Homo sapiens: one gene and its partner. The protein of the gene in region 1 purifies or fractionates together with the protein of each later gene. This does not show direct contact. Each region holds a gene or a part of one and is shown in the gene's direction. Other genes may lie near its edges.

Evidence for each region. The genes of interacting proteins can lie anywhere in the genome.
Region 2: the proteins of HMX2 (region 1) and CALB2 purify together in Homo sapiens (affinity purification with mass spectrometry; one large-scale study listed by BioGRID and IntAct). This does not show direct contact.

The regions. Positions count from the first base shown.
Region 1 is NC_000010.11:123,146,872-123,150,935, forward strand, and holds HMX2 (homeobox protein HMX2), read left to right. Parts: upstream 1-1,264; 5' UTR 1,265-1,507; coding exon 1,508-1,775; intron 1,776-2,698; coding exon 2,699-3,252; 3' UTR 3,253-3,801; downstream 3,802-4,064. UniProt on the Homo sapiens protein: Transcription factor involved in specification of neuronal cell types and which is required for inner ear and hypothalamus development.
Region 2 is NC_000016.10:71,361,723-71,365,222, forward strand, and holds part of CALB2 (calretinin), read left to right. Parts: intron 1-3,500. UniProt on the Homo sapiens protein: Calcium-binding protein involved in calcium homeostasis and signal transduction. It plays a critical role in buffering intracellular calcium levels and modulating calcium-dependent signaling pathways.

The DNA.
Region 1 (4,064 bases):
AAACCGCTTTGCTTGGCTGGGCTAATTCTAGCTCGGGTAACAGCTGATCTAGGAATTAAAGGGGCGAGAGCCAGGGCACAGAAGGGGGCTATGAGAACACAGAGGGAATCACTATTTACTGAGCACCACGGTGTGCCAGGCTCGGTGCTGGGTAGTTTGACCTCACAACAGCCTCTGCGAGGGAGGCACTGCTTCCTCCAATTTTAGGAATAAAGAAACCGAGCCTCAGAATTTCCAAATGTCTTCCCCCAAGATCACCCAGCCGAGAATTGAGTCGAGTCTGCTCAATTCTAAAACCGAGTCCTGTCACCAGTTCCTTATCTTCTTCCTGGGAGTAAGGCGTCTATTTCTGCAGCAGTTCGGAAACCTTCAAAATTTACAAAACAAAAACACAGATTCGCTTAAAACACGGGTGGGCCATGGGCTACCCGGCCAGGTTTATGGAGTACCTACTATGCGCTGCTAGTGCTTCGAGGCTTTTAATCCCTACCTGAGGCAATCCGAGAAGTTATTTTCAACTATGAGGGCAGAGAGGCTTTAATCGGCATGAGTTGTGCAAGTTCATGCAGTGTGTAAATAGTTGTGCCGGAATTTGAACCCAGATCTCTTGACTAGAGGTCTTAGGGCTTCCTCCCTCCCCCTAAAGATTCTGTAGGTCCGTAGAACCTGTGACAGGGATGAGGTCTGCAGACGGGGAAGGGGAATGTCTGCTCCCAAGGCTCCTGGCCATGCTGGAGAGGATGAGCGTCCGCCTGGAGACGCCTGCTCCTAACCCACCTCACCCCCACGCAGGGCGCCACGGTCCCAGGAGTGCCGGCTTTGCCCGCCCACTGGGGCTAGAAGGGGTGGAGGGCTGGGGGAGGATGGTGGAGCAGCCTGTACAAGCCCCTGGGAGGCGCGGAGACCCGTCGCCTGCGGAGGCGTCGAGCCACTCCAGCTCCGAGTCCCGCACCGCCCCTGCCTCTGGAGAGAAGGGTCCAAGGGGTCCAAGGAGTCGGAGTTGCCGCAGCCGCCAGGAACCCGGGCTAGAATCTGCAGCTGCTTTCAGCCCTGGCTGCCCCTGGTTAGACGCCGCTGATGCCCGCCAGGCCCTCGGCGCGCTCTGGGGGCGCACCGGTGCTGTGTGCCTGGCCGGAGCGTTTTGAAATTTTCCGGGGCCGCTCGGCGGCGCTGCGATTGGCCGCGTTCGGGTAACCTCTATGCAAATGAGGCCGCGCCGCCTCCGCGCCGCCGGAGACCCGGCGAGTTGGCGGGCGAGGAAGGGGCATTTGCACCGGGGCTGGGCGGGCGCACCCAGAGCCAGGCGGGCAGGAACCCCTGCGCAGCCATCCGGTGCCTGCATGTCCCTGGCGCGGAAGGGACGCCTCACCAGCCTCGGCGCCCCCTCCCCCTAGATTTCCTCCCCGCCCCTCCCCACTGCCTGCCTGCTGCACCACCTTCCACCCAGATCACCCAGATCGTCTCTAAAGGGAGTTCTTGGTTTCCTTCGATTTCTTATGAACCCAGGATGGGCAGCAAAGAAGATGCGGGCAAGGGGTGTCCGGCGGCCGGTGGCGTCTCCAGCTTCACCATCCAGTCCATCCTGGGCGGGGGCCCCTCGGAGGCACCGCGGGAGCCCGTCGGCTGGCCAGCCAGGAAGCGCAGCCTGTCCGTGTCCTCGGAGGAGGAGGAGCCGGACGACGGCTGGAAGGCGCCCGCCTGCTTCTGCCCAGACCAGCACGGCCCTAAGGAGCAGGGCCCCAAGCACCATCCCCCCATCCCTTTTCCTTGCCTGGGTAAGGATCGCACGTCGCCAGTGTGGCAGCGAGCGAGCGCGAGGGGAGGGAGGCTGAGCGCCCCGCCAAGACTCCCGCGCCGGGCCCCCTCTGGCCAGAGCTGCGGCAGCCGGGGGTTCGGGACCGCGGGGAGAGGGGCGCGCACTGTGGTGCCTCCTCCGCCCGGTGGGCCCCTGGGAGCAGGCGAACACAGACCCGTGCCGGCTTGGGCTTCCTGGGGAAGGTTGAGTTGTTGAGAGAGTGGACCACAGCGAGAGGGACACGCGGCCGGCCTTACACCCGGCTGTCCTCAATCACTGCACATCTGGTACTTTCTTTCCGGACACGAGGTGGAGATCTGCAAGTCGGGTCTGGGCAGTCTGTCTCCACCGTAATCTCTTTCTGAGTCTTCTTCCTCACTCGCTCCGTATCTCTGCCTTTCTCTCTCTCTCCTCCTTGGAATGATTAGCACTCCAAGATGATTGACAATGGTGCATTTCAGAGACGGTTCCTCTTTACAACATTTGACGAAGGGGAGTCCTGCGTTAGTCCTTAGCGTGATTTCCAAACAAACGGCCTGTGAAATGATGCCACCCTATAAAGCTCGAGGAACTCTTCCAGCTCAATTACCACCAAGCAAATTCGCCTTTTAAAACCATGCTAATGTTTCCCCCTCCAGACCTCCTCTCCCTGTTGCCCCTGGCCCATTCATAAAGGTGGGAGCACAGAGACCCCATACTCCAAGTAGCTGGGTCCCTCTCTTGTCGCTTTTAAAGGACGGGGTGCTGGGTTTGGGGGGCCAGTGAGAGGGATAAGAGGAGGGGATTGGTAAGGTGGGACCAAGGCTGCAGGCGCTTGCCAACCGCTTGGTCCCAGGGAGAGCTGGCGGTCTCCGAGGCTCCCCAACCAACTCCATGGCCTTTCTGTCTGTTCTCGCTCCTCAGGTACCCCCAAGGGCAGCGGAGGCTCGGGCCCGGGCGGCTTGGAGCGCACGCCTTTCCTCTCTCCTTCGCACTCGGACTTTAAAGAAGAGAAAGAGAGGCTCCTGCCCGCGGGCTCGCCCTCGCCGGGGTCCGAGCGGCCGCGGGACGGCGGCGCTGAGCGGCAGGCCGGCGCGGCCAAGAAGAAGACGCGCACCGTCTTTTCGCGCAGCCAGGTGTACCAGCTCGAGTCCACCTTCGACATGAAGCGCTACCTGAGCAGCTCGGAGCGCGCCTGCCTCGCCTCCAGCCTGCAGCTCACGGAGACCCAGGTAAAGACTTGGTTCCAGAACCGCCGCAACAAGTGGAAGCGGCAGCTCTCGGCTGAGCTGGAGGCGGCCAACATGGCGCACGCGTCGGCGCAGACTCTGGTGAGCATGCCGCTGGTGTTCCGGGACAGTTCGCTGCTGCGCGTGCCGGTGCCGCGCTCGCTCGCCTTTCCCGCGCCGCTCTACTACCCGGGAAGCAACCTCTCGGCCTTACCTCTCTACAACCTATACAACAAGCTCGACTACTGACCGGCCCGCCGCCCCGCGCCGCCCCCAGCTGCCCGCAGAGCCGGGCGCGTACTGTACTGTAAGCAGGGCTCCGGAGCAAGGCGGCGTGTTTCCAGAAATATGAAGAAATACACCATGTGTATTCATTAGCTCTTATTTATGGTCTCTGCCCTACTTTTTGTTTTGATTGTTTCGGGTATTTATTGGCATTCCCTAAGTCAGAGAGCCTGCTTCCTACCTAGACCGAACCAGTACGCTTTGAAAACCATTCGGAGTGAGATGTTCTCGGGTGGTGGTGGGAAAGGGAGTTTTGGCCAGACAGGCTGTGGTTGGTAGGGAAAAAAATCAGGAAAACACCTACAAAACCAGGTACACTCCTCCCCCATATATACACCTGTATATATGTACATGCATACACGCTCGGCCAAGCCAGGCCCTCAGAGGCTTTGGACAATTACTAAATTGCTTCTTTTCGTTTCCCTCATCCCGAGGATGGTAGGGACGAAAAGGGGAGAGTTCAGATCTGTAAATATTTTTAAAAAGAAAAAAAAATAAAACATTTTAAACATCTTTGCTAACTTTGGTGGGCTTGGTTACCCGGCATGATAACGCACGGAAGGTTTTCAGGTTTTTCGGTGGAAAGACTTGCATGCGTCTGTCTGTGGAAGTTTGGCTCGCTCCACGTGGAGGGTGGGACCGGGGTCAGGGGTTAAAGGTCGGGACCTTGGCGCCGCCCAGACTGCACGTGGCTGGAGCTGCCCGCCCACTCTCCCTCCTAACGCCCAGAATCGTCGCGCGGGCTGGGGCGCACCCCGGCTGGAATCCAGCTCAAG
Region 2 (3,500 bases), on another chromosome or scaffold:
CCATTCCAAAACAGAAAAAGCCACCATCACCCTAAAGAGTTGGATTATTTTCAAAATTCTTATTAGCTTTGTGGTAGAGAAAGGAAGAAGTGTATGTTTGGAGAGTGAGAAACTAGGACTCAAAGAGGCAAAATTCTTTTCACAAGATCACACAGCAAAGCAGGAAGAGGTGAAGGGGGAACCAGGAATCTGGTCTCCTAGTCCGCAATACCACTCCACCAACTCTGCCTCAGCAGTCAGCCAAGAGCATGCGTTTGGGAGGGTTCCAATGTTGTCTCTCAAAGGCTGAGGTAGGGAAGATGACAGCCAAGCCCACCCAGTGACCCTGGTGGGGTCTAGGGCTCTTCCGAACATCACCTCCATGCTCCGAGTGGCCCTGACGTGGCCTTACGTATCTGAGCCCATTGCTCTGTTGCTTCCTGGACACTTCTGTATCAGGACCTTTCCCCCTCTAAAGGATCCAGGTGGCTGAGGGATGCCCAGTTCAGAGTTCACACTGTCCTTTATTTATGGTTCTGATTAGACAGGCCACCGGGCTCCTATTTTACTGACCATCTGCGAGCAGCAAAGTTGTGGCTCCAAAGAGAAATGCCTTAGCTTTTGCTACCCCTTTGAAAGCAACTAAGAATGTAAAGATAAGATGAGTTCTCTTCCAGGGGCAAGCAGACATTCATGGGGCCAAGGTGAACATCCTACTCCCTTCCAAGAATCTAGCCTACATAGATATACTCGTATGTGCGCAGAAAGTTATATGAACAAACATGTCTATTACAGTGTTCTTCGGAAATACTAACAATTTCAGTGGGTGGAGGGGAGAATGTGCTTCACTGGGGGACAGAAAAATAAATATGGTCATCCCTATGATGGAGTATGATAGAGCGAAGTGAAGCTTTTGTAGTGACATGGAAAAATGTCCAAGATGTATTATTAAGATATTGTTTAAAACTGTAGCTGAACACTATTATAAGCCCGTTTTTATTATGAATGATATATGTATGTTGCAGGATATTTAGAAAAATACAACTGAATAATAGCGGCTCTCTCTGAAGAGTGGATGAGCCAAATGAAAGGGGATTTTCTTTTACTTTCTAAGTTAATTTCCATAGCACTTGAAAATTTTACAAGAGCATCTATTTCCTGTGTAGTCAGCAAAACAATAAAGATATAAGAAGGGAGGCCAGGCACAGTGGCTCAGGCCTATAATCCCAGCACCTTGGGAGGCCAAGGCAGGAAGATCACTTGAAGCCAGGAGTTCGAGACCAGCTTGGGCAATACAGTGAGACCCCCCCTCCCCCTACTACAAATTTAAAAATTAAGCAGGTGTGGTGGCGCACGCCTGTAGTCCCAGCTACTTGAGAGGCTGAGGCAGGAAGATGGCTTGAGCCCAGGTAGTCCAAGCCTGCAGTGAGCTATGATTGCACCACTGCACTCCAGCCTGGGCAACAGAGCCAGACCCTATCTTTAAAAAAATAACTAACTAAATAAATAAAGATATAAGAAGAAAACAATGTGATAGACACCTTTTCTTCCCTTGTAAGAAATATGTATATGTCTCCAGGTGGGGGGATCTGCCTATACTCTTCTGGGCTTCTGTCCACCTCCAAGTGGCCCAGGTGACGTAGGGGGTGCTCAAAGCCTCTCACAGGGACTGAGTCCTGTTCCTTATCTATGTGGACCCTGAGGATTTTGAAAATAACAACAGAGGCCACAAAGGGCTGAGGATGGCTCTACGCAGGCTCCCATCCTCGCCCTCTGAAACCCAGTGACCTGGCAGAAGTCTTCTCCAAGCCCACACAACACTGAGGACCACTCAGGGCCAGACTGCAGTGCCCAGGCAGGCTCTTCCAGGGCACGGGTCACTGCTCATTTGTTTGTCCCTGGTTTAGGGAATGGGGAGGAAATTTAGAACAGCAGCACCTCTCAGAGATGAACGGGAACCTGGGCAACTGGCCCTGGGCGGCTGCATGAGAGGTCCTGCAATACCAAAGTGAAACACATGCTGAAATAGGGTCACAAAATATGTGATGTATATTAAGTGTTTATATAAATGACACAACAGTTACAATGCTATAAGGTAATCATAGGATTTATCAAAACGATTGGGTCTTGGCCCATTAAAATCAACAGGGTCCGACACTGGGAACCAAGATTAAAGTTGTCAGAGGAGCGCTTTCTCTGAACCCTGTTAGTGAACCTCTGGGGGTCTGTATACCTCTCAGCTGGGCGTGGCGTGATGTCAGGATATGAGGCTCTCAGGGAACAGCCGCCTGACCCATCTGGGGTAGGCCCTGGAAAATGTCCCCCACCCCTGCCTCTGCTCCCTCCCCCAACTCCCCAGTTTTTTCACTAACAGCGTCCTTGGGTTGTGGAGTGTCCACGTGCAGCAGCTCTACGCTGGGTACCTCCAGGTGGGCTCTTGCCTGCTATGGCTCTGCTTCTCAGACTCTGATTGCACCAGCCGGCAGCGGGGAGCAGCTGGTCTGTGAAGAGCTGGGGCTCCCCGGGGGAGCCCGCCTAAGGGACCCGTTTCACAAACAAGATGCCAGCCCTGCATTGCCTTGATATTGACAGCCAGGCCGGCTGTCCCTGCCCTGCTCAGCTTGTATATTCCCCTCCAGACTTCAGCAGCTTTACCAGCCAAGCCCCTGAGGGAGGTTTCCAGGGCTAAGGAGACCCCTCAGGGAAATCAATTCCAAAACCAAAGGAGCTAGAATTAATAGAGCAGGCCTGAGGCTCTTCAAGAACAGTGCCTCTCCAGCCCCAGCCTGCCGGCGGATTGCATCCCAGGCCCTCCTTTGCCAAGCCGGCCCATCTGGGGCCTCTGGCTTCAGCCCTCCCTCTGTCCTTGTTGGCTCTTCACTATCTCCCCTCTCACCCAATCTGCCCTATCCTTCTGGCCTCCCTCATGCCTGGGACTCAGCCCAGCATTAGGCTGCCAGATGTCCACAGGTTCAGGGGACCCAGCCCAGCTCCAGAACCACGGGTCCAAAGCAGCACAGCCCAGAAACATAGATTGAAATTCAAGTGCCCAAACATTCAGCTGGTGGCTGGTAGCTCTTCACTCTGGGGCTTATTCTTTTTTCCAGAAGCCACTGGAAGAAGCGTGTGTGTGTGTGTCAGAGAGAGAAGCCAGGACAAATGCAGATATGGACAGACATTGTCCCTGGGACAAATAGAAGGAGGCCAGGACCTCTGTCAGCTGTGGCTGAATCTCCTTCCCCCTCCGATTCCTCCTTTCTAAGATGGGGTTGATAACTGCTTACCTGGCAGGGTCGTAAAGAACAGATGAGGTGGGAAGTGGAAAGCTTTTTGGGAATGGTGCGCACCAAGCAAAGCAGGATTAATACTGGGGCAGAGCCTGGGGAAGCCAATTTCTTACCCCAAAGGGTAGGATTTGACTGTCCCAGAGGGTGCTCCAGATGGAGGTTAGAGGACTGTTTGCCTTCGATAAATCTGAACTCCAGATAGACCGACAAGCGGCCTGGCCTCCTGGATGCCTT